Linked DNA regions of Homo sapiens. The protein of the gene in region 2 purifies or fractionates together with the protein of the main gene of each other region. This does not show direct contact. Each region holds a gene or a part of one and is shown on either strand. Other genes may lie near its edges.

Region 1 (11,572 bases), about 74 Mb from region 2:
TTAAAGGACTATGACAGTGACGGGGTAGGGGGAACCCCGACAGAGAGGGCTAGACCCCTAGGGCCACCCCGCCTCCCGTTTGCTTGGGATCCTGTAACCGTGGAGTCTCGGTGCAAGGGCCTCCCAGGCACCGGGGCTTCAGGCCTAAGCAGAAGCTCAACCCAGGGCCTTCCTACAGGCCCAATCCCGCGGCTGCCTGAGCCCGGCAGGGCGCCCTGACTGTGGCACTCACCATCCAGGTTGTTCAGGGACATGACGACGTCCAGGTCGGCACCCAGGATTTTGCCCAGCTGGTTGACGAGAGCAGAGTCGTTGGCTGGGTACACAGCCACGTGGTCCCCAGATTCATACCTGGAGGGAGATGTGAGGCTCGGGAGGGGCGGAAGGCTGGCCCTGCCCCAGGTCAGGAGGCCCAGAGTGAGGGTTCAGGGGGTGACAGTGGCAGCTGGTACCTGATTTTGGAGTCCGAGATGTCCAATTCCAGGTGCATGAGGTGGCGCTCGGTTCCCTGGTTCAGCTTCCGGTTGGTGGTGACTGCAGCCAGGAACGGATTCTTGGCATCAAAGGGGCTGGGTGGGGAGGAGAGAAGCACAGTGAGCGGCCGGGGCTTTGATCTGAGTCTCCGTCTCCAAGGACGCTTCTGGTTGCACAAAGCACAGGGAATCTCAGAGATCTCCATGAGGAAATCTCACCGGTTACATCAAGGGCTCTCCCAGCCTGGTCCAATGCAGTTCTCTTTTTTTTTTTTGAGACAGAGTTTCGCTCTGCCACCCAGGCTGGAGTGCAGCGGCGCGATCTCGGCTCACTGCAACCTCTGCCTCCCAGGTTCAAGCAATTCTCCTGCCTCAGCCTCCTGAGCAGCTGGAATTACAGGCATTCGCCACCATGCCTGGTTAACTTTTATATTTTTACTAGAGACGGGGTTTCACCATGTTGGCCAGGCTGGTCTTGAACTCCTGACCTCAGGTGATTCACCCACCTCGGCCTCCCAGAGTGCTGGGATTAGAGCTGTGAGCCACCTCGCCCAGCCCTAATGCAGTTCTCTCTATAGTCCCACCACATGGGCAGAGCTGGGTCATCAGTGTCTGTTTACAGATGTGGAAACTGAGGCTGGCCCCTAAAAGAACTGTGAGGCCCAAGCTGACGGTGCCACAGGCTGGAAGGTGGCTGGTCCCCAAATGAGGAGCACAGCTCCCCCACCCCCACACGTCCTGGACTACACCGTGGACAAGAGAGAAACTTGCACTCCGGAAAGCCACCGACATGCAGGGCTTCTCGCTCCAGCCAGGCTGGGGCAGGCCTACAGAAAGCAGGGCAGCTGGTCTTGGATGCAGTGGCACGAGGACTTCCCTGGGTGGCTCGGGCAGGAATCTGGGCAGCAACCAGGGGCCATCAAGGGCACAGAGAGGAACGCCAGGTTTCTCCCCCAAGTCTATCTATGGAGATAGATTCTAAGAAAATGAGCCCTTCTGCCAAAGAGGATCCTAGCCACAGAGGCCAATGCACTGTCCTAGTCGAGAAGTGGGATGTGCCCCGCTGCCCTGGGCAGTGCAGAGTAAGGTGGCTAAGTGAGCTCAGTACAAACTGGGCGAGTGCCAGTCTCCTGGGGCCGGGCCGTGGACAGGTCGTGGACACTCACACCCACTCGGGGCACGGGGTCTGGTGAGAAGGGCCCTGTGGGGATATGGGGATACACGGCAGACTGAGCCTGGGGTGCACCAGTGGCCATAGAGCCGTCTGCCCCAAGCCACGCTCCCTCCACTCACGGCTTCTGGTTCTCGTAGCTCTTCAGCCGGCCCATCTCCCCCATGTACACCTTGGCCGCATCTATGTCGGTGTGGACCACAAGCTCGTACTGGCGAATGCTGGAAAGGGGAGACCAAGGGTGAGGCCGGGAAGCGGCAGGGGTCAGTCCCGAGAGGGAGGGGTTGGACTACAGGGGAGACCGTGCATGGCCTTTGGGGTGAGGTCCCAGGTACATACGACAAGAAGCAGGGGAGCCCCTGCTGCAGATGCACAAGGAGGGCAGGCGAGGGAGCAAGGAGGGAGGCGGCGTGGAGCTGCCGGGGGCCAGACGCCCAGAAGCCGGGGCAGGGCTGGGCAGGCTTCCATCTGGGAGAAGGTAAGGAAGCCCGGGCAGCACCCAGGGGCCATCAAGGGCACAGAGAGGAACGTTATGTTTTTGGCCAAGTCTGTGGAGGCAGATTTTAAGGAAATGAGCCCTTTTGCCAAAGTTGAACCTAGCCACAGAGCCCGACGCGATGTGTCCTTGTCGAGAGGTGGGATGCACCCCGCTGCCCCAGGGCAGTGCAGAGCAACGTGGCAGAGTGAGTCCTTGGCTGGGACCAAGGTCCCTCCTCGACCCTATGACGGAGTGTCTTCTAACCTTGCTGCGACCCACTGCCAGCCCTTGTTCCAGGGTGGCTGCCCTCGGCACAGGACCCGCCCAGGCCACCCACCGCACCTGCGGGCACTTGCTCACCTGGACTCCTCGCCAGTGGCTTCCACCCCAAAGTGTTCACACACGGCCGGCCAGAACTGCTCTCGCCAGGTGATGAAGTCCTCCTCCAAGCTGGGCCGAGGAGAGGAGAGGGGGAGCGGCTCAGGGGAGGCCCATGTGGCAACGGTACCTGGTGCCAGGCACGCCCCGACCCCACCCCATCCCCAAAGCTCAGGACTGTGCACCCTGGGGCACCCAGCGACATAAACCCAGAGCATCAGGAAGGCTCCAGGGAGTTGGGCAAGCCGAAAAGCAAAACTGGCAGGGGCAGGGCAGAGGCAGGAGAGCCCCTTCCCTCTGTGTTGGAGGTGCGTGTCGCTGAGTCTCAGCTGACACAATGGTGTGCGCGCCCCTCACGTTCCACGGCCCCTGCCTAAGCCCGCCGCGCTGATCATGGTGGCAGGGTGGGCACTCACTTCCCATCGTCGTCGCCCAACCCCAGCTCAAAGATGCGCTGGGCGCCGAGCTGCTCCAGCCGCTTGTCCACGTACTTGCCCATGGCATTGAAGTGCTCGTAGGTCTTGTTCCCAAGACCAAACACCTGCGTGGACACAGGGGCCGCTCTGAGGCCTGGCCCTCGACCTGACCAGTGGGAGGGGCCATGGGGGCAGGGCGGGAGGCCCCACAGCACTGGCTGAGCTGCTGGCAACACCTGCAGGCCTCCGTTCCACCAGGCGCCTCGCACTGCAAGGAACACTGGGCCACTGAAGAGGCTTCATCTGGTTGACCTGCAGCCCACAGCCTGCCCCGTCCACTGCCAGCCTCAACCCACAGGGAAGCGGGGCCAGCCCACCCTCCCCACCGGGCTGGGGCTCCAGCTCTCCGAGGCCAGGCAGGTCTCAGTCGTCCAGCCAGACCTTTCTTGCCTTTAGTCTCCAGCACCCAATGCCCCCTGGAGCCGACTGGGGCTGGGGACAGGGAGGGGACATTCTCGTAGTGCTGGGGTCTGGGGCAGAGGAGAGGGTCTCACAAGTGGCCTGCCCTGGCTGCTGAGGACAGGGTGGGGGTCTGGAGGGCTGCCTTTCAGATACATGGATCTGGAGTCCCCAGGGAGGCACCGCAGGCCACCGGGAGCCCATAGCAGTCTCTGGGTGACTCACCGCGAACTTGACCCCAGAGAGATCCACGTCTGTCTCCTGCAGCCAGTCGTAGAAGTCCTGGGCATTGTCGGTGGGGTCTCCCTCACCGTAGGTGGCCATGCAGAAAACCACCAGGGCGTTGTCGATCTCTGGCAGGCTGCTCAGGTCGGCCTGCAGAAACAGGGACAGGACCGCGCCCCGGCCATGACTGAGCCTGTTCAAGGTTCAACCCGCACCAGATGGGGAAGGCCAGGTCCTGCCCAGGGTGGCACCAGGCCAGGGATGTCTGAGTGTCGTGGGATCAGAGAGAAGTAACAACACGGAGGGGCTGGGGCATGGGCATTTGTGCCAGGTGGGCAGGACAAGGTCACCCGTGTTAGGCTGGAGCGGAGAGGATGTGTTTCTAGAGGAAAGTGAAGCTTGGCACAAAAGAGCCATCAGAATGCAGCCTCCTGAGCTGATGCAGGTCTGGGGCCACCCTGGGAACCTCATTCCAAAGCTCCCAGGCACCGCACAGCCCCGGTGCACACTGATATCTAACTAAACTGTTCATCAACTGCAAATGCAGCCTGGAGAGGGCTGTGGGGTAGTGCCCGTCACCAAGACCTCGAAGGAGAGGGGAGTGGAGCAGCTGGGGAGGGTGGGTTTGGTTTGGGAGATGTGGCGGCCGCCAGGAGGGCAGCCGGCACTCAGGGGAGGGCCAGTCCTGGGGAAACGATGCCTGGCACGTGGCTGCAACTGCAGGAATGGCCCTTCCGTCAGTCAGCCCGGGCAGGGATGGCAATGACCCTCACGGGAAGGCAACTTCCGAGGACGTCTTCCCAGGACCCCACTCCCTGCCGGCCTCCCCCTGCTGAGGGGCGCCCTACAGACCTGCTCCCTGTCCTACCCACTGCCTCCATCTGGGGCCAGCACGCGGTGGCAGCTTACCAGGTCATACTCCTCAGGGTCCGCTGACATGCCTCGCATCCCGTAGCGGTGGGCGTCCTTGGACAGGCGGTTGGCAAACTCCTCTGCAGTCCCCGTCTGGGAGCCGTAGAACACGATGATGTTCCTCCCCTAAGGAAGGCAGACACAGGGTTGGTGAGGGCCACAGACCTCAGCCACGGCTCCGGTGAACACCCACTGGGCAGGCCTGGCAGGCGGGGGCCCTCCAGGCCGCCCCCTTTCCTTCCTGGCTTTGAGTCCCTTCTAAGTTCCTCTGGGACTTGCTTCTCACTGTCACAGCCACTGTGGCAAAGGAGGGCAAAGGTCACCAAGGCAATCTCACACACGCGGCTGCTCAAGATCACACTTCTGACATTTTCATGACACGGGGAAAAAACAAAGTTAAAAAAAGTAACCAAATGTATAGCCCCTATCCGTGGGGGAATGGTTCCAGGACCTCCCATAGATACTTACATCCAAGGATGCAGCCGGGCGTGGTGGCTCACACCTGTGATCCCAGCACTTTGGGAGGCTGAGGCTGGCAGATTACCTGAGGTCAGGAGTTCAAGACCAGCCTGACCAACATGGTGAAACTCCATCTCTACTAAAACTACAAAAATTAGCCGGGCATGGTGGCGTGCACCTGTAATCCCAGTTACTAGGGAGGCTGAGGCAGGAAAACAGCTTGAACCCAGGAGGTGGAGGTTGCAGTGAACTGAGAACACGCCACTGCACTCCAGCCTGGGTGACAGAGCAAGACTCCACCTCCAGTGGCTCACGCCTATAATCCCAGCACTTTGGGAGGCCAAGGCGGGTGGATGACTTGAGGTCGAGAGTTCAAGACCAGCCTGACCAATATGGAGAAAACCCTGTCTCTACTAAAAATACAAAATTAGCCGGGCATGGTGGCACATGCCTGTAATCCCAGCTACTTGGGAGGCTGAGGCAGGAGAATCGCTTGGACCTGGGAGGCAGAGGTTGTGGTGAGCCGAGATCGCGCCATTGCACTCCAGCCTGGGCTACAAGAGCAAAACTCCATCACAAAAAAACCCAAAAAACAAAAATCCAAGGATGCTCAAGTCCCTGCTATAAAATGATGTGGTATTTGTGTGTAGCCTACACACATCCTCCAACATACTTTAAATCATCTCTAGATTACTTATTAATGTAATACTTAATGTAATGTAAATTCTCTGTAAATAGTTGCTATGCTGTATTGTTTAGGGAACAGTAAGATGACAGTATGTGTTCAGGACAGACACAACAATCCATTTTTTCTCCAAATATTTTCAGTCTGCAGTTGAATTCTTGAACTCCGAACTCACGGATATGCAGGGCTGGCTATACAATCCAATTGTGTTATATAAATAATAGATATGTATATCAAAACATACATATGTATTTTCTTTCTATACCCACAGGCACAAAGAAAACAGACTGGCAAGAAATATACCGAGGGTCCCTAAATGGGGCATTCTGGATGTGTTTTGCTGGTTAAATACATATTCATTATAAAATTTTACAACAGGGAAAGGTCCTAGGGGCTGGCTCACATACTCGTCAGTCCACCCTCCTCCTCCAGCAGCTGTTGAAAAGCCTGAAATCCTATTCCCCAGAGCCCGTTGGGGCTGGAGTTGCAGCCAATTCGGTTCAGCCAATTGAACGTGCTTTGCAAGATCTGAAGGGTGGAAGGGAGGCCAAGGCTTCCTGGCCCCTCATGCACATGTGAGGTTCTCTGCAGTGCCTGGTCTTCAGTGCCTAAGGCATTTTTCTTTTTTTCTTTTCTTTTTTTTATTTTTGTGTGTGAGACGGAGTCTCGCTCTGACGCCCAGATTGGAGTGTAATGGCACGATCTCAGTTCACTGCAACCTCTGCCTCCTGGGTTCAAGCAATTCTCGTGCCTCAGCCTCCTGAGTAGCTGGGATTACAGGCACCCACCACTATGCTAGGCTAATTTTTTTGAATTTTTAGTAGAGACTGGGTTTCAACACGTTGGCCAGGCTGGTCTCGAACTCCTGACCTCAGGTGATCTGCCCACCTTGGCCTCCCAAAGTGCTGGGATTACGGGCGTGAGCCACCGCACCCAGCCACCTGAGGTATTTCTAATAGTTTTGGTAGCCAGACTGCAAGTTCCTAGTCCTGGCTACTGGCTTATGTGATGTTCAGAGGCAGCTGTAGAAGTAGCTTCTTATCCTGGATCACAGCTACACGTGGTGTGTCCTGAACTCAACAGTTTCAGGCTGCATTCGAACAGAGCAGCTACCTTGCAGGTTGCTTCTGTGATATCTTAGAGACCAACCTGCTCCTTCAGCCCCTCCAGTAACCTGGAAGTACCCCCTTCCCTGTGTGAAATCCCTTCCAGATTAAAATGCCTAAAGTAGTCTCTAGTTTTCACACTGAATCCCACCTCATACAAAATAAAACTTACGCGGCCGGGTGCCGTGGCTCACTTCTGTAATCCTAGTACTTTGGGAGGCCGAGGTAAGAGGATGACTTGAGCCCAGGAGTTTGAGACCAGCCTGGGCAACATGGCAAAACCCTGTCTCTACTAAAAATACAAAAAATTTATCTGGGTGTGGTGGCGCATGCCTATGGTTCTAGCTACTTGGGAGGCTGAGGTGGGAGGATCACTTGAGCCTGGGAGGTTGAGGCTGAAGTGAGCTGTGATTGAGCCACTGCACTCCAGCCTGGGTGACAGGAGTGAGACTGAGTCTCAAAACAAAACCACCACCAAAAAAAACTTAGGGATTACAATAAATGTTCTTATACTTTTTAAAGTTCCTGAATTTTCCACAAATCATTGTTAAATCATTAAAAATTGTTTTTTTTTTTCTTGAGACAGAGTTTTGCTCTTGTCGCCTAGGCTGGAGTGCAGTGGTGCGATCTCGGCTCACTGAAACCTCTGCCTCCTGGGTTCAAGCGATTTTCCTGCCTCAGCCTCCTGAATAGCTGGGATTACAGGTGTCCGTCACCATGCCTGGCTAATTTTTTGTGTTTTTAGTAGAGACAGGGTTTCACCATGTTGGTCCAGCTGGTCTCAAAGCTCCTGACCTCAGGTGATCCGCCCGTCTCAGCCTCCCAAAGTGCTGGGATTACAGACATGAGCCACTGCACCCGGCCAAAAGGATTTTTTTTTTTTTTAGATGGAATCTTGCTCTGTTGGCCAGGCTGGAGTGCAGTGGTGCGATCTTGGCTCAATGCAACCTCCGCCTCCCGGGTTCAAGTGATTCTCCTGCATCAGCCTCCCGAGTACCTGGGACTACAGGTGCATGCCACCACGCCCGGCTAATTTTTGTATTTTTAGTAGAGACAGGGTTTTCGCCCAAAAGGATATTTTAAAATAATCACCGTAAAAATACTTAATAGAAGAGAAAGTGCTCATGATTATCAGGTTAAGAGAACAAAAGATGACCTAAGATAGCAGCTAAATATTTACAGGAGCATCAAAATATATAAAATACCTAGAAATAAACTTTGTAAGAGATGTGTCAGAAGCTACTGAACTACACACAAAGGACTCACGCCAATGGAAAAGCACCCCGATTATGGACAGGGAGTCTCGACCCACAAAAATGGCAGCTCTATTTATGTCACTAGAGAAATGTGGCATGATGTAATAGAAATCTGAACCAGCTGGGTGCAGTGGCTCACACCTGTAATCCCAGTACCCTGGGAGGCCACACCAGGAGGACTGCTTAAGCCCAGGAGTTTGAGAACAGCCTGGGCAACAGAGTGAGACCCAGTCTCTACCAAAAAAAAAAAAAAAAATCTGAACAGCTTTTTTTTCCTCAACAAATTGATCCTAAAAGTCACGGAAAAATAAGTAAGAATCCATATATTAAAACATTATTTGGCAATAAAAAGGAAGTACTAACATATGCTACAGTGTGGGTGAACCTTGAACACGTTGCGCCCAGTGAAAAGAACCCAGAGACCCAGCTATTATTATTATTATTTGACACAGGGTGTAGCTGTTGCCCAGGTTTGAGTCCAGTGGTCACTGCAATCTGTGCCTCCCAAGCTCAAGCTATCCTCCCACTTCAGCCTCTCAGGTAGCGGGGACTATAGGTGCGCACCACTGTGTCCCACTAATTTTTCTATTTTTTGTGGAGATGGGGTTTCGCCATGTTGCCCAGGCTGGTCTCAAACTCCTGGGCTCAAGCGACCTGCCCATCTCGGCCTCCCAAAGTGTTGGGATTACAGGCATGAGCCACTGCGCCCAGCCCAGGAATTAAGTATATGATAAAGGTGGCATTTCAAACCAGTGGGGGAAAGATGGACTCTAATACATGGTGTTTAGACAGCTATGTAAAATGTAGAGTTGGATTCATACCTCACATCTTACATCAGGATAAATTCCCAATAGATCAGATTTTAAATTTTGAATATGAAAAACAAAACCCTAAAAGTACTAGAAAAAAAAAATACAGGAATATCTTTATCTCTTTAGCATGGGGAAGACCTTCAAATTATGACTCTAAGACCAGAAGTCACGAAAAGAAAGAATCATATAGGTGACTCTGTAACTTTTACACAGCAAAACAAATAAAAATGCGATCAGCTAGGTTGAAAGACAAACTTTTTTTTAAGAGATGGAATCTCACTAAAAGACAAACTCTTTAACGGGCAAGATATTTTCAACTTATATCACAGACAAGAGATTCATCTCCCTAATAATTTCAAGGAGAAAGATCAATCCCAACAGAAAAGCAGGCAAAAGATGTGAAGAGAGAATCTATTAAAAAAAGAAAAAAGAGGCTGGGTGCGGTGGTTCAGGCCTGTAATTCCAGAACTTTGGGAGGCCAAGTTGAGTGGATGACCTGAGGTCAGGAGTTCGAGACCAGCCTGGCCAACATGGCAAAACCCTGTCTCTACTGAAAATACAAAAGTTAGCCAGGCATGGTAGCACGCACCTGTAATCCCAGCTACTCAGGAGAATGAGGCATGAGAATTGCTTGAACCCGGGAGGTGGAGATTGCAGTGAGCTGAGATCACACCACTGCACTCCAGCCTGGGCAACAAAGCGAGACCCTGTCTCAAAAAAAAAAAAAAAAAAAAGAAAAGAAAAAAGAAAAAGAAACGAAGCCATCTAGACCTAGGTGGGTGAAAATCTACTGAATCTCATTCATAAAAATGTAAATTACAACTATACTGAGTTTTTTTTTTAAGCCTAGAAAACTGACAAAAATCTAAACTTTAATAACAAACTGTTGGCAAGGCTGTGGGGAACAGTTTTCTCACACGTCGCTATTCTTGAGCGCGTGCCACGGTGTGACTCCTACGGGGACGATTTGTAGCTTCTATCACGATTGCAAACACATCTACCTTCCAATCCAGCAATTCCACTTCTGGGACTGCTTTGTATTTGAAATGTGCAAACCGAGCTACATATTCACAGTGACATTGTTGGTAAGAGCCAAAGAGTAGCAACAGCCCCAGTGCCCATCTTTAATAGGACAGGGTTAAGTGCGTTACAGTGAATCCAGATGGCCATATAATGGAATCATGGTACAGCTAAGATGATGGCAGTATCTTTGTATTGATATGGAAGGATCTTTGAGACATATCAAGTTGTTTTGTGTTCTTTTTTTTTTAAAGCAAGGTCAGCCGGGCGCAGTGGCTCACGCCTGTAATCCCAGCACTTTGGGAGACCGAGGCAGATGGATCACGAGGTCAGCAGTTTGAGACCAGCCTGGTCAACATGGTGAAACCCCGTCTCTACTAAAAATACAAAAATTAGCCAGGCACGGTGGCAGGCGTCTAACCCCAACTACTCCGGAGGCTGATGCGGGAGAATCACTTGAACCGAGGAGGTGAAGGTTGCAGTGAGCCAAGACCGTGCCATTGCACTCCAGCCTGGGCGACAGAGCGAGACTCTGTCTCAAAAAAAAAAAAAAAAAAAAAAAAAGCAAGGTCTGGAACAGTGCACATAGTATGCCACGTTTTGTGTTTTAAGAAAAGTGTAGGCTGGATGCAATGGCTCGCACCTACAGTCCCAGCACTTTGGGAGGCGGAGGCAGAAGGATTGCTTGAGGCCAGGAGTTCAAGACCAGCCTGGGCAACATAGCGAGAACCTGTTCCTATGAAGAATAAATTAAAAAATTAGCCAGGCGTGGTGGTGTGCACCTGTAGTCCCAGCTACTTGGGAGGCTGTGGTAGGAGGATGGCTTGAGTCTAGGAGTTTGAGGCTGCAGTGAGCTATGATGGCGCCGCTGCACTCCAGCCTGGGCAACACAGTGAGACCCTGTCTCTAAAATAAAATAAAGGTTTTTTTAAATTAAAAATAAGAGTCTCTGTTTGTTTTACTTGTATGTTCATACAGGAACTCTAGAAGGATCCATAAATAATAAGAACAGTGGGGATGAGTGGGTGGCAGAGGGGAGCTTTCCACTGAATAGTGGATGTTTTTATTTTAACTATGTAAATGTAGTACTGATGCCTACAATTAAATAGTTAAATTGGCTGGGTGCGGTGGTTCACGCCTGTAATCCCAGCACTTTGGGAGGCTGAGGCGGGCGGATCACCTGAGGTCAGGAGTTCAAGACCAGTCTGGCCAACATGGTGAAATCCCATCTCTATTAAAAATACAAAAATTAGCTGGGCGTGGTGGCACGCACCTGTAATCCCAGCTACTCGGGAGGCTGAGGCACGAGAATGGCTTGAACCCGGGAGGTGGAGCTTGCAGTGAACCGAGATTGCGCCACTGCACTCCAGCCTGGGTGACAGAGCGAGATTCCATCTCAAAAAAAAAAAAGTAACAAAAACAAAGCGGAGAGAAAATGGCAGTGGTGCCACGACCGCAGCTCTGTGAGATTTACCTCTGCTCCTGGACAGGCCAGGGCCAGACGGGAGAAGCTTCGTGAGTTAGAGGGAGGGTCTGTTCTTAGACTTTGGTTTGTTCAAAAAGTAAAGATTCAAGGAAACAAACTGTCCCAGCAACAGCAGAGCTGCTTCAGGGCTTTGGTTAGGCAAGAATGACTCCCAAGCGAGCCGGGCTGCGTTCCCTCTCCTGGCCACCGGGACATCCTCTATGCGGTGACGCCAGCCGTCTGCTAGACTTGATTAC
Region 2 (8,744 bases):
ATGCTGGTTCCAGCTGGATCAGATCCCCTTCAAGGACATGTGGCCCGACGACAGCTACTGGTTTCCACTCCTGCTTCAGAAGAAGAAATTCCACGGGTACTTCAAGTTCCAGGGTCAGGACACCATCCTGGACTACACACTCCGCGAGGTGGACACGGTCTAGCGGGAGCCCAGGGCAGCCCCTGGGCAGGAGACGTGGCTGCTGAACAGCCGCAAACCATCTTCACCTGGGGGCATTGAGTGGCGCAGAGCCGGGTTTCATCTGGAATTAACTGGATGGAAGGGAAAATAAAGCTATCTAGCGGTGGTTTTTTTTTTTTTTTTTTGGAGATGGAGTCTCTCTCTGTTGCCCAGGCTGGAGTGCAATGGCACGATCTCGGCTCACGTCAACCTCCGCCTCCCAGGTTCAAGCGATCCTCCCATCTCAGCCTCCCGAAGAGGTGGGATTACAGGCGCACATTGCCACACCCAACTAATATTTGTCTGTTTAGTAGAGATGGGGTTTCACCATGTTGACCAGGCTGGTCTTGAACTCCTGACCTCAGGTGATCCACCTGCCTCAGCCTCCCAAAGTGCTGGGATTCCAGGCGTGAGCCACTGCACCCGGCCGGTCTCTAACCTTTCAAACGTTCTTCTCCAGACACCAGCACAGCCTGCCAGGTCCCGTCCACAGGAAGCTACCAGATGTGCTGGGCTTCAGCCCGCACTGCTGCACAGAGGTGGGAGAGGATGGAGACTCTGTCCCCGAGGTGGGCAGCTGGCCCAGGGCAGAGACACACATGCTCAGTGCCACAAGCTGGGGATGTGTCCTCTTAAAACCCCCCTGCACAGTGTGGGAAGCTGAGGCTCGGCCAAGGGCTCTGGGCTAAAACCCAGGTTGAACGCCTCATAGGCTAGTCCCCTCCCCTGCCCAACTTTCATACACGTTTAATAACAGTTGTTCACACATGTTTATTGATAAACCGTCCAAAATGTAGGTCATGTGTAAACAATTCCAGTTGTTGGGTATATTGGGTATTGATCCCTGCAGCCTCCTAAAGTGCTTTGGACATGAACTGACCCGCAAAGCAAGGGCAAAGGCCTCAGATGCACAGAGCTGCCCTGACATCCCTTGGCTCGGAGTCCCTGTGCCCCATGTCAGAGCCCTAAACCTGTCTCCCCTGCCTGCACTGTGTCCGGCAGACAAAGGGCAGCTGTCTGCACGGTGACCCCGAGTACCCAGGACACGGACCACGAGGACCCAATGAAAATGTCCCCTTTCACCATGATCGGCAGCCCCCTTCCCACAGCCCCGCCAGCCCACAACCCCCCTCCCACGGCCCCGCCAGCCGTCCTCACAGGGCAGGCGGCATCTGGCATCTCCACCAGCATCACACGCAGCTGTCCCTGCCAGCTAGGCAAGGCCGTAATGACCGGCACAAGCTTGGGCTTGGGCCGTGGGCAGCAGGAGGGCTGGAGAGGCATGGGGGGAACCCCGCTCTCCCTCCGGCATGGGGCCTCCACCTGCAGCAGTAAGCAGCCTCTCAGCCCCTGAGCCTGGGGACCTGCCCGGGCAGCACAGGGCCAGGGCCAAGAAGTATTTGTGAGAAGGAAGGTGGCCTCCGCCACCCCTGCCTAGCAGGCCTCTTTCTGCTGCCCTTTAGAAGGCACTGGGTGGCAGAGGAGGAAGGGGAGGGAGGTGTTCCAAAGCCAGTGCCCACCCCTCCACAGAGCCAACCCCAGGGCACACAGGAAGCAGCCACCACACGTGGGAGACAGGCTGCCCTCGTCACCGCTGCCCTCCAGCCCCCCCTTCACCCTGCCCTCCTGACCCTCCCACCCCTGCCTTCCTGCCCCCCCACCTCCCTCCTGCCTTCCCACCCCTGCCCTCTTGCTCTCCTCACCCCTGCCCTCTTGCTCTCTCCTCACCCCTGCCCTCCTGCTCCCCCTCACCCCTGCCCTCCCTTACCCGTTCTCCTGCTCCCTCCTCACCCCTGCCCTCCTATTCCCCATCACCCCTACTCTCCTGCTCTCCTCACCCCTGCTCTCCTGCTCTCTCACCCCTGCCCCCTTGCTCTCTCACCCCTGCCCTCCTGTCCCAACGCCTGCCCTCCTGCTCCCCCTCATCCCTCTTCTGCTCCCCCTCACCCCTGCCCTCCCTTACCCCTGTTCTCCTGTTCTCCTGACCCCTGCCCTCCTGCTCCCCCAACTCCTGCCCTCCTGCTCCCTCCTCACCCCTGCCCTCCAGCCTTCCACCTCCATCCTCAGCCTCTGGACATGAGGACCCTGAGACCCTGCTCTTGAAGTTTCCAACACAGGGAGATGCCGCCAGGTATGTGGCCTCTCATACACTCACTGACCCCGGAGTCCCTGCCAGGAAAGCTCCTTCAGAAAAGCTCATTCTGAAGTCTTGCTCAATCCTTGGGGGCTGTCAGGAGCGCGTGCCTTGCCTACTCTGGAGACACAGAGGCCCCAGCACCTGATGCCCTCCACGACTCCCCACAGCCTCTATGGTCCTGCAGCTGGACAGGCCCCAGGAAGGTGCGGGGTGGACGGAGAGGCCTTGCAGCCTTCTGCCCACACGGGGTCACGCTTCATGGCTCGGGTGTCATGGTGCCATTCATGGCAACTGAGAACCTGTCTCTGCAGAGGGGCGTCAGAAGGCAGCGCAGCCCAAGACTCGGGTGGACTAGGGACTCACGGGACAGCCCACCCATCGGGCTCCAAAGGGAACGCTGCCCTCTGCTCATCTGGCCAGAAGGAAGCAGCCCACCTCACAGCAGGAAGGCAGCAGCAGAACCCACAGGGCAGGGCAGGCTGGGCCCGAGCCCCACAGCCACCGAGTCAGCACAGCCCACGGGGCCAGAAGGCACGGCCGTTCCCTCTGGCCGGCTCGCAGTGGACGATGGATCACCTGCCTGCGGGGCACACACAGGAGTCCCCTCTCCATCCCACGGCCGTGAGCTGCCCGTAGGTACAGGCGGAAGGGAAGCACCCTCCGTGAGAGGAGTGAACGCCCCAGAGGCCAGTGAGCATCTGCGGAGCGGAGGGACCTCGGAAACCCTGGAGCCCGGCGGGCCTCTTCCAGCACCCCTCCCCGGCCAGGGAGGGGCGTCAGGCTCCGGAGAAGTGCAGGGGTCCACTGGGCTCCCATGTACCTTCCACAAAAGGGGTTCGGGCAGAAGCAGACCCAGGCCTGAGGCGGACAGTCCAGCCCCACAGAGCTCAGGAGAATGGCCTTCTTCATCCAGAGCAGGGAAGGGGCCTGAAAGACCACTGGTTCCCTCTGTGAGCAGGTGGCTGGGCCGGCAAGTGCGTGACGGGAGGCTGGGAGGAGGGCTCTAGGTGCCTCAGAGAAGGAAATCCACTTAAAAGGGGGCTGTCCCTCCTCTAAAGCCTCAGCTGGAATGGAACACGCCCCCCCACGCCCCCACCTGTCCTCTGCCAGCCCATCCAGCCTCAGTGCCACACGGTGCAGACCCCAACACTGGCCACCAGAAATCAAGGGAGTCCAGGGGACGAGAACACAGCTGCTGTAGCGCCCACTCTCAGAGCCCCAGCTCTCCGTCACGCCTTTGTCTTCCAGGCCTGGGCACACACAGGGTCATGGTGTGGACACAGGCACACATGGGGTCATCATATGGGCACAGGGCATGAGGCCACTGGACCCCACAGGCCACTCCCAGACCAGGGCTCCAGGTGTTGACTGCAGCAATTTCCCTAGAAAATTCACCGTGCGTGCCCCACGCCCAATGGCCCTCCCTCCCAGCCTCAGCACCACTGGCTGTCCCCTCGCTGTCCGTGGTCAGTCCCATGCCTGGGCTGCAGGGCAGCCCTGCCCTCTCTCCTCGGCTGACCGAGCACCATGATGCTGCCCCTCCCGACTGTTCCAGCACCTGGAGGCCCTGCCTCCACGCTCCCCCAGGCACAATCTCTGTGAGATGAGAGATCCCTGCCTCCCCGCACAGCTCTGGGTGTCAGGAGGAAACCATTCCAGAGAACCCCACCACCTCTCTCGACCAGGCTAGCAGGCCACAGGGCGAAGGACAGTGTGGCCCAGCTGCCCCCATGGTCCACGGATGCGCCTCCCGACCCGCAGGCGTGAGCTCCTCTGCTCCAGCTGCAGCACGGGGCGTGGCGGGGAGGGGAGCTGCCGTCCAAAGGGAATTACACCGGGACACACCGTTTGGAAAGAGGTTTTAGTGCGGCCGCAGGGAGCACCACCTCAGCCTCAGGCGCTAGTGAGGACACAGGCCGTCCTCCGGCGGGGAGCACGGTGGGGTCAGGGTGCTGTGTGGTCCCGCAAAGAGGCAGCTGAGCTTGGGCCTCAGGTCGTTCCACACCTTGCTCATCTGAAAGGGAAGCGAAGAGAACAAGATCAGCAGGCGGGGCCGGGGCTCCTCCTCACGCTCTGATCCCAGTTCCTTCGCCTGCCAGTGACAGGGAGGGAGGGGCCCTCAGGTGCGCCAGCTCCTCAAACCTCTGGCAGAACCAGTGCTGCCCATCCTGCACAGAGGAAGCCCAAATGAGGAGTGGACCAGCGACATGTGACCTGTGGTCACAGACACCCACGCTTCGATCCCTGCACCCAGGACCAAAGGGCTGCAAATCTGCCTGCCGTGGAATCGTGAGAAACGTTACTATCGCGTCACTGCCAGTACATGCTCTAGCTGCCGTGCGGGCACTGGCCTCATGGAAGCCTTGGCAGGTCAAACACCAAGGCCAGCCTGGGCAACACACGGACACCCTGTCTCCACAGAAAATCAGAAATATGAGTCGGATGTGGTGGCACCTGCCTGTGGTCCCAGCTACTCGGGAGGTTGAGGCTGCAGTGAGCTGTGATTGCACCACTGCACTCCAGCTTGGGTGACAGAGCAAGACTCCACCTCAAAACCAAAAAGCAAACCAAAAACACAAAGACCACATCCACCAAATCAATAATACCCAAACCGGAATGCAAACGGCGGCCCCACTCGCCAAGCACTTTTGGAACCAGGGCAAGGAACGGATGCTGTGGATGTGAGGAGGGGAGCGCGGCAGTGAGGCAGGGGTCAGGCCAAGACCTGCCGTGCAGGGGCTCAGGTGGCCAGAGAAGGGCAGGGCGCACCCTGGGGGCCTGCAGGGGAGGCTGAGTCACTGGACCACAGCGCACACAGCATCACAGGGCTGGAAATTCCTCACCACCACAATAAAAAACCTGGTAGGACTGGGGTTATGGCATCATGCTCCGGGCGCCTGTTGGTCCCATTCCTTCACTGAGGACACACCCGGCCACTCACATGTCCAAGTCCAACCTGGTCCCTGAGACCCTGGCCATCTCACAGTGATGCTCCTAACACGGCGGCTGTCTACCGCCTCTCCAGCCCCACCACGGCCGCCTCCAGCCTGCCATTCCCAAAGTGCTGGACGGCACCCACGGCACCAAGCACCTCCCGGGGACAGTGTGGAATCTCGTGACCACCCCAGACACTCGGTGCCATTCCACACACACCACAGACCATGGCTTGAAAGCTACTTGCAGCTACTTAATAAACTTAATTTCAGCCGGGCACAAGGTGCTCGCCTGTAATCCCAGCGGTGCTGCAGTGAGCTGGCCACCAGAAATCAACGGAGGCCTGTCCCAGGACCTTGGGAGCGTTTCTTCTCCCAGGCTGAAGGAACCGCCATCTGCTCTGGAGGAAGCCGGCCAGGGCTCTCTGGAAGAACAGCCACCTGCGGCGCTCCGAAGCGCTAGAAACCTTCTCTCAGCCGCAGGGTGCGGGAGCTCTGCGGGCTTTACCTCCGACTTCTCAAATCCCTCCAGGAGGCAAACTCTCCCTGTCTGCTCCTCCCTCCGCCCCCCAGGAATCACAGGGACACCCTCACGATTCTGATTTTGGCTACACAGGAGACTAGAAGATCCGGGCGAGCACCGTGTTCCAAGGCCCATGCGGAGCCCAACTCCACTAAAGAACCTCTCTAGGGCGGCCGGCCACCGCGCTGCCGGGCTTGAAGGAAGGGCGGAGGGACAAAGAAAGGCCGTGGCCGAGACGGCGGCCGGAGCAGGGCGGACTCACCTCCTTGTGCCCTTGGATCTGAGAGTTGACGAAGGCGCGGAGGATGTGGGAGGTGAGGGGCAGGTAGACGTGGATGAGCTGCGTCTCCTGGTGCAGGCAGTACAGGGAGAAGTAGTTCCGCAGCTCCATCGTCTGAATCGCGTTCTCCTGCTGCGGAGCAAACAGCCGCCTTTCGCACCCGGCCCAGCCGGCGACGGGAGCACCAAGGCCCGAACACCAGCGTGCTCCCTGAGCCAGGGCGGCCCCTTCTCCTTCAGCCTTCACCAGGCATTTGGAAGGTGGCGAGGTAAGAGAGGGCCGGGGAGGGAGCACCGTGCAGGGAGCCGCATCGCTCTGGGCACGCGGGCCAGCTCCCTGCCTCCACTGCACCCCCAGCTCTGTTCCAGACACAAGGAGCCAACCCAGGGGAGCCCACCAGGACGGCTCCGGGTCCCACCATGGCCGGGAGGGGAAAGGCTCCCACGGGCCTGCTCGGCCGCCCCGCCACCCACCTCCACAATGCGGGACTCCAGCTGCTCCACGGACTCCGGCTCGCGGTTCTGCGCGGTGGCGCTCATCATCTGCCTCTTCATCAGGCTGTACTTGTGCAGGGCCCGCTGGTGCTTGTGCAACACGCCCTTCTCATGCCGCTCGCACAGGTCCTGCGGGGCCGGGGGAGGCATTCGCCCGCTGTCTGGATGCCTGCGCCAGGGCCCTGCGGAGCCGGCCGAGGGAAGCACCCCCGCCAGACGGAAGGCCCCGTCTTCCCCTGCAGCCCTGGCTTCTCAGCTCCTCTTCCGTCCCCCAGGAGTTAGACCCTTGAAGGATCCTAAGATCATTCCTGAAAGTTCTGCCCCCAGCCAAGGAGCAGCCAAGACTCACCTTATAGGACTGCAGCAGATCCAAGAAGAGGTTCAGCTTCTCCACCACGTCGTTCTCTTCCTGCTTACCCTGGAAGGCGAGGGGGAGCTCACCCACGCGGACGCACATAGGACCCGGTCCCTGCCCGGGAACTCAGACCCAAGCCTGGCCTGGGCCGGTTCCTTCCTCCCAGAGTCAGACGGGCTCCCCAGGACCACCAGCCAGGTCTGCAGGGGGCCCCCTTCCCCACCAGCCCACCCATTACCAGGCGGACACGCCTTCGAGCCCAGCAGTCTTTTTTTTTTTTTTTTTTTGAGTCGGAGTCTTCGCTCTGTCGCCCAGGCTGGAATGCAGTGGCACGATCTCGGCTCACTGCAAGCTCCGCCTCCCGGGTTCACGCCATTCTCCTGCCTCAGCCTCCCGAGTAGCTGGGACTACAGGCGCCCTCCACCATGCCCGGCTAATTTTTTGTATTTCTTTTTTTAGTAGAGACGGGGTTTCACCGTGTTAGCGAGGATGGTCTTGATCTCCAGACCTCGTGATCCGCCCGCCTCGGCCTCCCAAAGTGCTGGATTACAGGCGTGAGCCACCGCGCTGGGCCTGGCCCAGCAGTCTTGATGGGAACAAGGCCTGCGTTCCCGCGGGACAGCTGCCCGCCCTCCTGCTCATCAGCCCGGCCTGCCTTGCCTTTCTCAGGCCTTCGCAAAGCCGGCGACTCTCCCAACACATATGCTGGGAGAGCCAGATGCCCCAGACCCCCCGACCCCTAAGGCTCCATCAAGCACTGCAGAAAACCCGAGTTCCCATATAACGCTGTGAGCCGTGTGCAAAACGGGCACGCCCAGGAGGGGCACGGAGGAGAACAAGGGTGTTGTCTCCGCATCAGTAACAGGAGAGAGAAACGCAGGCCTAGGAAGGGGGCACAGGGAAGGGGGCGCAGGGTAGGTAGGAGAGACAGCAGCTGCAGGAAGGACGTGCTGCTGATCCAGGAAGAGAGGCGGCCGCCCCAGGCTGCACGCAGAAGCACCACACTCGGCGGTGGGGGCAGCGGTGGACACAGGCTCCTCTTCGGCCCTCACACAAGGCTCTGTGCGGGCAGCACAGCCACAGAGAGAGCCCAACAGGGCAGTGAGTGCACAGCAAACGGCGGGCAGCCCTGGAGTGGAACAGGGGCCCCATCACGGCAGAGGGATGCCCTGCTCCCAGAGTCACCACAGCACCTGGGGACACGAAGCAGCCCCCACGGGCGAACCCCACCCAGACGCTGCCTCGGCCTCCCCGGCTTACACCAGTAGCAGCCCTCGGTGGGGGCGCAGGCCAGGCACAGTGCACACGGCCCGAACACACGGTGCTCAGAGGCATCTGCGGTATGAAGAGTCGGTCCAAAGCCCTGGGCTCCAGCTGCCACTGAGGGGAGCATCCAAGCTCTGGAGACAGCAGGGGTCTGGGGAAGGCAGCGGAAGCGGCAGCCCATCCACCCCTGACCTGCACAGCTCACCACAGACCCCCCAGCCACAACCGCAACCAAGCCAGGCCGATGGCAGGTATCCTGGGGAAACCCCCGACACTGACGCCTTCAGTCACACCCGGGCCCTGAAGGGCTCCGGTCCCCACAGCTCACGCCCTCAGTCCCCACAGCTCACTGAGCACCTCGGGGAGACCAAGCTCCCTCCACGATTCCTCGGGCTCCACCCGTGGTAGGGGGTGAAAAGCTCACCCCACGCACTGCACGTCAAGCTCAGCAGGAGACGGGGCAGGCAGAAGTGGATGGAACGAGTTTTACGGGACACAGCCCTGGAATGGGAGCCAGGGGTGCCGCCCAGGCCCTGCTGCACCCCAGGGGACCCTAAGATACCCCTTCCACCCTCC
Region 3 (9,101 bases), on a different chromosome or scaffold from region 2:
AAAAGTCTGCTCCAAATACAGCAGAGACATAGCTCACCTCAGGCGCTTGGCAAAAGGACATGGGGAATGTGATGTAAGCATTTCTTTCTCTACAAAAATGCATCTAAGGAGAGTATGAAAAGTTTGTCTCAACACAGTTGACATGTAATCACTGTGACTTCAAACCAAACGTGTTAATCTGGAAAAAGCAGTACTGGCAGATTTCTTTTTTCTTCATTAAGCAATGACCTAGCACAGAACAATGCATTGCTTATGGCAATCTTTGAAATCACAAGTAAACTTTAAAAACACTGCCTACAATGGAAATGCACGTGCCCTAGATCAGGGTTCACACAAACACATCCAGTAAGCATATGGACCATGCTTTCCATTCTTTACTGCATAATTTATTAAAAAATCTATAGAGAGAAATCTATTATTCTACTGCATCCAATGTGTTATGTGTGTGTTAATTTATATTAGCTAGGGCAAAAAGGCTATGTGTCATATTTAACACACATATTTCTTATTTGCCATTTAGCACATACACAAAGACTCATGCATACAAACACGATAACACACAATAACTGAGTAATGCTTTCTTTAAAGTGCTGAACTTTCATAGATTGGTAGCATTCTCTAAGAGTTCACACAAAAAGTAAGATGGATACATTGGAAGTATAACTCTAGGACAATCAAGTAAAAATAAATATCAAATCCCACTTTGAGATATAAAAGCATATAACTCGTATGTCACTGTTATCTTTCCTTCCAGCTGCTGAATATATAGATATTATTTCTGTTTTGTCATGTTACATAGAATAAGCTTCTCTGAGTTTCTCCCAAAAATCTACTTACAGAAAAGCAATTACTAGAGATTCTGTAGGAGTGAGATAGAAGTGGGTGAGGGTTCCTAAATGCTTTTATCTACTTGAACTACCACGTTATACCTAAAGTAAGAGCAATACATTCACTAACTTTAAATGCGTCCTCCCCTCCCTTTTTATTCCACAAGAAAATACAGAGTTTAAGATTAGTTCAACTTCACATGACTGTGATGCACAAATTCTTTAAGTGTAAGGAGTCTATGCATTTTACAGTAACTTATTTTATGATTGGGAGATGAGACAGTTATACATTCAACTGCCATTATTTTTATTAAGTGCTTTCATTTTCTTTACAGTTATTACAAAATTGTATTTATTTTATACAGATGGGTTTTCATTTTCCTGATGCTGTAATGTTTACTTCAGCTTGTTGACCTTTCTTTGTGTTATCTGCATGTTGTAACGTGTGATAAGAATGAATGTAAAGGCTGTGGCAACTGTAATTAATTTTTGTAAAGGGCTGGTCACACGTGGATCTGGTTTATGAATGTATTTGGGATGATTTTAGTAACCAGATCACCTTTTCAGAAATTTAGATGTGAACACCAAAAGATGCATTTTCTCAACAAAAATTAATAGCTGGTTCTATTTTTTTAAACCTAGAAAAAATAAAGTTGATTTTTTTCAAAAAAAAAAAAGATTAGTTCAACTTTATACCAAGAAATAATAGTAGAGCTACTTGTTGAAATACCACCTCCTAGTGGTAAGGTCATCTTATTTGTTTTATAAAGCACTGGGGTATAGCATATTTGGCCACTGTGCTATTTTTCACAATTTAAAATTACAGTTGGATAAATGGCCCAGTAAGTTTTAGTTTGATAGTATTTTCAAAAAGGTATTTCATTAATGTTTATTTGACTTACAAACTTAATTCCCCTTATTAATAAAATAGCAATCAATATTTCCTATGTGCAGTTAGTAGCAGTGCTTAGATTAAAAACAAAACTTTAAGAGGAATAAGTTCTAGTGTTCTATACCACTGTAGGATAACTATAGTTAACAATAGTATATTATATAGTTTGAAATAGCTGGAAGGAACATATTAAATGTTCGTAACACAAAGAAAAATGTTCGAAATGATAGATATGCTAATTACCTTGGTCAGATCACTGTACATTATATGAATGGAAACATTATTATGTATCTCATGAATAGGTACCATTGTTATTTATAAATTTAAAATAAAATTAAAAACAAAAACAAAACTTACTAGAAATCTTTGTTGTTGTACCCCAAAAGTCCTAGAAACCTACATACAAATATGTGAGAGTGACAGCTATCTTGTAGACACAATAAGATGATTATTTAATAACCTGATAGTTTGGAGTTACTAAATCAACACTTTTCATTCAGTAAAGCAGCAAGGAGACAACCTTTCATTATATACTTTGGCAGAGATAATCCAAAATCAGATAATCAAAATAATTTTTATTTGGTTGTAGAATGTTGTAGTACATAAAGCAAAATGTGTCTGCAGGATACTCCAAATTTACCAACTTCAAACAAAATAATGCACAGTGAAGAATTAGAAAATTATCAACCTTACTCAATACATGGAAGTATTCCTTAATCTTCATCATTTTCATTAAACAAAATAATATTTTGGATGAGTTCAACATTTCTATCCTATGCTTTATGTTTAGTGCCTTCCCTGAATTGGAAAAAATGAGGTGTTTTATTTAAATTTAACACTGGTCTAAGGGAGATATAGAATTAAACTAAACAAGAATCGGTTATCACAACCTCACAACATATATCAAAGTATTGAGATTGTTGGTTTACTGACTGTCACTTTTCACTGGATATTAAATATCCTGAGGGCTACAACTGTATTTTTTAACCTGTCCCAGTACCTCAACAAAATTTTCACTGAATGTATGAATAAATTATGTTAACAAAAAGTTAACAATAAAAGTATAATGAAGATCCCTTTAATTAATTTTAAAATCTGAAAGGAAAACTGGAGTCACAAAACATATGTTCAAATCTTAATTCATCACAAATTTTGTGATTTTTGACCTCCACCTCAATGAAGCTCAGTTTTCTCAGCTGAATAAAAGGGATAATGCCTGTGTATTTCAGAGTAGCTGTAAAGGTAAAATGAGGCAATGTACATGAAAGTCCTTTGGAAATACCAAACAAATGTTATTTGCTATCATGCTACCACATATACATGTAGGAAATATATGTATTAAATAAGAATATTTTTAAGATGCAATGTGATAACTTACATTAAATATATATACAATTTTTCCCAAATGAAAACTAACCTAATTCCTCTCTTTAACTGACAAACACACTCAAAACTGCTCATCCAAAAAAAGTCCCTTCCTTGAAGATGTAGTCCCCAGCTTTTTCTCTTCTCTAGTAAATGCTGTCAGAAAAGAGTTGACACCTATGCATCTTCTTCCTAATGCACTGAAAGCTGACTCAATGACCACTGCCTATAGAACAGTTTCAATATGTTTAATCCATTGATTTCTTTTAAATTATCACTTTATTTTATCCCTGAAGATTTCTTTTTGAGTACTTTCCACACCTATCCTGGCTTCTTCAAAACAACTACCCTTTTTTTCTTACTTCTGTGACTATAAGGTTGTATTATTGGATCTCCTTTTTTCTCATCCTAATTTCTGCCTAGATGATCAAACCTGCTCCAATAGAATCAGGTATCATCTCTGTATTGTAAGCTTTGAAATATTTGTCTCTGTCTCAGGTTTCCTCCTAATTTCTAGGTCTATATTTCTAATTATTAACCAAAGATTTCTATCTGGATGCCCTTCATTCTATGTAAAGTCAAACTCATTATCCTTCTCTCTTTTTCCAAACCTTCTCCCTCCCTTTGTTGCCAATCTTGGTAAGCAGCCAAGCAGAAATCTTAGAGTCATTAATGACTTTTCCACTCTTCCTCACCTCTTACTTCCATTATCTAGTAACAGGATCTATTGATTCCATCTCTTAAATGTCTCTCTAATCCATCTACTCTCTTCCCTATTTTAATTTCCACTTCCTTCATTGGATCTTCATTATTTCTTTTTGAAATATTTTGATCGCCTCTTATCTAGTCTCTATGCTTTGGTCTCACACAATTTAAATCCATCCTCTTAAATATGATGCCATGGGAAAAAAAAAAAAAACATCCTTACTTTTTTTTTTTTGGCTGCCTACTCATTGCCTGGAAAATAAACTGCAAGCTCTTTGACATTGCATTTGAGACCCTTACTTATCTGTTTCCAACCTGTTTTTCCAGCCCTAACTCATGCCCACACCCTTCTCTCTCTAGAATATGTTATGCACTTTCAGTTTCATGCCCTGGTTCATGGTGTTCCCTCTACCTGTTATGGTTGTTCTTCATTTGTCAAAAACCTCTACATCTTTCGAGCCCATGTGATATGTGATTTTCTCTGTAATATTTTCTCTATCCTGCTTCTGGGTAAAATTAACCTCTATTCCTTATGTTCTCTTCTACTGCTATTAAAATTAAATTTAAGTTGTAGAAGTGTTTATCTCCTTCACTGTATCAGACTCAAAGGAAAAAGTTGTGTTCATTTTGATTCACATATGCTTAACACAATGCCTGACCAATAGAGGGTATCCAATAAATACTGAACTGAACAAATCTATTCCTGATCTGTGTAATAAACAGGGAGAACAAACTTTAAGAATAATTCTCATGCATAAAACATATTAGCTACAACATACTGATTTTTGTCAGTTATTATTACAATTAAATGAAAATCATTTGGCTTTGAATAATAGTAAAAATATACCCAAAAGATGAATTATCCATTGTAATCCATTTGGTTTTAAGTAAATCAAACAGCTAAATTTCTCTCTTGCAGTCAGTTTGGAAGGAGGCAGGAAGCAGTTATACAAAAATCCAGTCAAGTATCTGTAAAATACATAGAAATCAAATATGAGACGCTTACTGGTGTTATTAGAATATCAAGGTAAGAGTCATGAAGTCTATTAAAGTTTTTCTGTAAGTTAAAGAGCTAAAAACATTGTAAAGAGTAAAAAATAATATTAATTCAGCTAGAAGTAACCTTAGGGAAAATTACACATATCTTATAGGGGCAGTGCTAAATCAGTGCCATGAAATATTTTTGTATAATTCCAACAAAACCATCTCTAATAAATACTATTTTAAGAAAATTACACTCAGTCTTGCTGTATGACTTTAGATCATGTGTCAGTGTACTATAGCCTATAGGCCAAATCTGGCCCCTTACCTGTTTATTTTACTGTTTACAGACAGGGTTTATGTTATCCATGCTGTACTCAAACTCCTGGCCTAAAGCAGTCCTCCCACCTCAGCCTCCCGAGGAGCTGGGACTACAGGAGCAGGGCCACTGTGCCTGGCTCCCTCGCCTGATTTTTGTAAACAAAGTTTTATTGGAACACGGACATATTCATTCATCTCTATGTTGTCAGTATCTCTTGTTGCTCTACCTCTACAATGGCGAAGCTGAGTAGCTGAGATATACTGTATGTCCCACAAAGTCTAAACTACTTACTGTCATTTTAAAATAAAAATTTGGGCAACTCCAACTGCAGATAATCATTTGGAAATCTAGTTGAAAATCAAGCTAGTTTCTTTGTGAGAATTTCTTATGATTCTAGAATTCAGAATGTTTATGCAAAGATTTGTTTTCAAAAATAACATGAAAGTTATAAGGATGTGAGGATAGGGAATGTACAGATATCAAGTACATAGTAGAGAGAAAGGAAATACTTACATACCTTTTTAAAGATTAAATTGTTTTATTTTTATACTTTTAACATAAGCCTGCCTAATTATTCTTCATTAACTAGGAAAAGGAGTGGCTGCTCTTCATAATAGAGTGTTATTGGAAATGAACGTTGCTACCACTATTACATCACTAAAAAAGTAGAAACATCATTCTCCCTGTAGGAATAAAGGAGTAAAGTTTAACATAATTAACTTTTTTTTTTTAAATAAGGGGAGGAATAGGCTAAAAGAGGAAGAAAGAGAAAGGGAGGGAGAAGTGGAGAGAGGGATGAAAGAGAGGAAAAACGGAGAGAGGAGAGAAAACCTACTGTACCTCATTCTTTAATTGATATGAAGCCAATCTGTGTACCAAAATTAAGGCCATCTCGGACATGGGAGAAAAACTTGTCAGGATGGCAAGATGTACAGAGGTTGAGATCTTGGTTCTGGTCCTGAATATTCTGTGGAAGAATTCCTCCCTGTTCTAGAAGAATCCTTAGGAAAAATATTTTTCAAAAGAGAGCAAGAGTTTATTTTCCCAATAGCCAAAGCAATATGAAAAAAAGTATGGATGTTGGCATGAAAAAGTTCCAGGAAAGATGTACCTAGAACAATGTATATTGTTATTCACTTACAGAACATGGACTAGTCAGGGAAAAAAATGCTACACTTTATCAGCATTTATCACCTAAGTTCATATATGCACAGTACAACCTTCCATATTGTCTTATAGACATAATCTAGGTACAGAATTTTATAATCAAAATCAAGTGCTTATTTAAGAAGAAATGTCTACAAAAGTTACCAGGATATCAGGCAAAATTCACCTGGCTCAGCCAGAGTATGCTTTTTAGTCATCTGGCCCTTCATCTCCTTTCCTTCTATTAGCCAGATTTTTCTCAGAAAACTTGCTTCTCCATGAACACTTTATGATATGAAATATGACTACAAGTTAGTGATACTTGATTTTAAAAGTCACATTTAAGAATCAATTTCAAACTTTTCCACATCTGTACTAAATGAGGCAGACTCTGGGTAAAGTTTTGGCGACTGGAATAGAAACATGATTTAAAACATACATTAATTTGCCTTTGTAGTAATGACAAATAATTTTCACCAGTTATTAATAACAAAACCTTGTAAATTAAAAGATGCGAAGAACTGTAAAAAACTTAAAAGTAAAAAACCGTGTATTTATATTATCTAATATTTTTTCTAAAAAACATATTCCTCTAGTTAATTAGATAATAAGAATAATTTTAAAATATCAGCTTCCTGATAGTTCATTACATTTAGGAGAATTTAGCTGAGGAATGGCTGTGAAGTAAAGTACACGCCAACTTTTCTATATGAAGTTTAAGTAGATCTCTTAAAATTAAATGCCAAATATTTCTTCCTTCACTTTTAAATCAATGAAAGATACCAGACAGGAAAATTTCTGTTATTCAAACTCAAATGAAAACAGATTTCATATTTAAAATGAGTGTTTGTGTACATGTGCATGTCAGCTGCTTAAATAACCACCACCTAAATTCTTCTTAGAGTTATTAATTGTTCTCCAAAATAAATTTCATTTTAGAACAATCAGAAATAATCAAACTTGCAGTTGAATGAAATCAGACATACCTTGTGGCTTTACGGATGTCGATACAGGGATTTGGTGAATCAAATAGTTGTACACATGCAGGATGAAGATTATGAAATGCCTCTGCTGATTCCCTTGGAAGAGTAAAACAGCAAGGTCCTACTGAAGGTCCAAGTACAACAACAATGTCTTCCAAACTGCAGCCATATTCTGCTATCATAGCATTCACTGTAGCCATAGCAACACCCAACAAAGTACCTTTCCAACCTGGTAAATAGGAATAAAAAGAGATAAGAGAAGTCAAAACATAAAAAATTTCACCTGAATTTATGTCTAAGTTAAAAGTGAGCAGATTTAGTTTGTATATTTTTCAAAGTCCAGAAATAATAAATTACATTATCATGTGGTTTTTAAATGAGCCATACTACACAAAGCACCTGACACAGAAGAGACATGTAATGGGAGTTTTCTTCATCTTCCATTTAAAGATGCTCTATACTTTTAGTTTCCACTGAGATCATAGCTTCTTAGTCTTCTATTTTTCACATTTTAAAAGATTGTGGTTAAAAACCCACAAAATTTACTATTATAACCACAAAAAAATACTATTCTAAGTATACAGTTCAGTAGTGTTGAACTCACATTGTTGTATAACCAATCTCCAGAATTTTTTCATTTGATAAAATGGAAACTCTACAACTATTAACAATAACTCCTTGTTTCTTCCTTTTACCAGCCCCTGGCAATCACCATTCTTCTTCCAGTTCCTGTACATTTGATTACTGTAGGTATATCATATAAGTGAAATCAATACAGTATTTATCTTTTTGTGACTGACTGATTTCACTTAGCATAATGTCCTTAAGGTTCATCTATATTGTAGTATGTGTCAGAATATCCTGCCTTTTTAAAGCTAAATAATATTCCATTGTATGCACACACATTTTGCTTATCCATTCATCTACCAATGTACCTTAGATTGCTTTCACCTTTTGGCTATTGCGAATAATCGTGTTATCAACATTGGTGTGCAAATATCTCTTTGAGTTCCTGATTTCAGTTATTTTGGATATACTTCCAGAAGAGGAATTTCTGGATTATATGGTAATCTATTTATAATTTTTTGAGAAATTGCCATACTGTTTTCTATAGTGGCTACACAATTTCACATTCCCACCACCAGTGCACCAGGATTTCAACTTCTCCATATCCTCAACAACACTTATTTTCTGAGGTTTTAAAATATTAGCCATCCTAATGGATGTGGGGTGATATTTCACTGTGGTTTTGATTTGCGTTTCTCTAACTTCTAATCCATGAACACAGAATTTCTCTGCATTTATTTGTGTCTTCTTTAATGTCCTTCAGCAATGTTTTGCAGTTTTCATCTCTCCCTTTTTACAAAAATATATCTATTATATTTCAATTAACAGCCTCTTTTTACTCCCTTCCCACTTGCCCAGACTATCGTTCCCTTGCCATCTTTGTCTTATCTGCCTTGCATCTTACAGTGTTCTAAGATAAAACCATCTTCTTTACTTATGCTACCTTCTTGTTGCCAAAGACAGAAAGCTAAGAATATTGCATTTTTCCTTTATTCCCTATATCTGGGTTTGATTCAGCTGATATGGTTGGCCAATAATGAGTACCCTTACACCTTCCTTAAGCACTCCATACTCATACCCTTCAAAAGGTAGGCACTCAGGTGAAGGGATCAATTTTTACAGATAAAAGGAGATGATGAAAGCAAGAAGGACTTAGGTGACAGGTTCAGCCTCTACAGGTAACCCACTGAATATGTGGTTATGGGAAGTACAGAATGAAGACATCAAGTTTCTATCTGTAAGTGGGTAGGATATCAATAATTAAAACAGGAAACCTAACTGGCAGAGAAGACTTTAGGAAAAAAATGTTGAGT

What was found.
Region 1: the proteins of SNX8 (region 2) and POR purify together in Homo sapiens (co-immunoprecipitation; 3 studies listed by BioGRID and IntAct, with this or other methods). This does not show direct contact.
Region 3: the proteins of SNX8 (region 2) and LACC1 purify together in Homo sapiens (affinity purification with mass spectrometry; 2 studies listed by BioGRID and IntAct, with this or other methods). This does not show direct contact.

Annotation. Positions count from the first base shown.
Region 1 is NC_000007.14:75,972,517-75,984,088, reverse strand, and holds part of POR (NADPH--cytochrome P450 reductase), read right to left. Parts: intron 4,639-11,572; coding exon 4,510-4,638; intron 3,751-4,509; coding exon 3,601-3,750; intron 3,042-3,600; coding exon 2,917-3,041; intron 2,573-2,916; coding exon 2,483-2,572; intron 1,866-2,482; coding exon 1,767-1,865; intron 570-1,766; coding exon 453-569; intron 352-452; coding exon 233-351; intron 1-232. UniProt on the Homo sapiens protein: This enzyme is required for electron transfer from NADP to cytochrome P450 in microsomes. It can also provide electron transfer to heme oxygenase and cytochrome B5.
Region 2 is NC_000007.14:2,250,839-2,259,582, forward strand, and holds the end of SNX8 (sorting nexin-8), read right to left. Parts: intron 6,966-8,744; coding exon 6,897-6,965; intron 6,740-6,896; exon of another isoform or gene 6,677-6,739; coding exon 6,527-6,676; intron 6,186-6,526; coding exon 6,036-6,185; intron 4,332-6,035; coding exon 4,218-4,331; 3' UTR 932-4,217; downstream 1-931. Other genes in the region: NUDT1 (oxidized purine nucleoside triphosphate hydrolase), read left to right, coding at 1-163. UniProt on the Homo sapiens protein: May be involved in several stages of intracellular trafficking. May play a role in intracellular protein transport from early endosomes to the trans-Golgi network.
Region 3 is NC_000013.11:43,887,106-43,896,206, reverse strand, and holds the end of LACC1 (purine nucleoside phosphorylase LACC1), read right to left. Parts: intron 7,451-9,101; coding exon 7,225-7,450; intron 6,094-7,224; coding exon 5,934-6,093; 3' UTR 5,933-5,933; exon of another isoform or gene 5,928-5,932; intron 4,759-5,927; coding exon of another isoform or gene 4,605-4,758; 3' UTR 2,275-4,604; downstream 1-2,274. UniProt on the Homo sapiens protein: Purine nucleoside enzyme that catalyzes the phosphorolysis of adenosine, guanosine and inosine nucleosides, yielding D-ribose 1-phosphate and the respective free bases, adenine, guanine and hypoxanthine.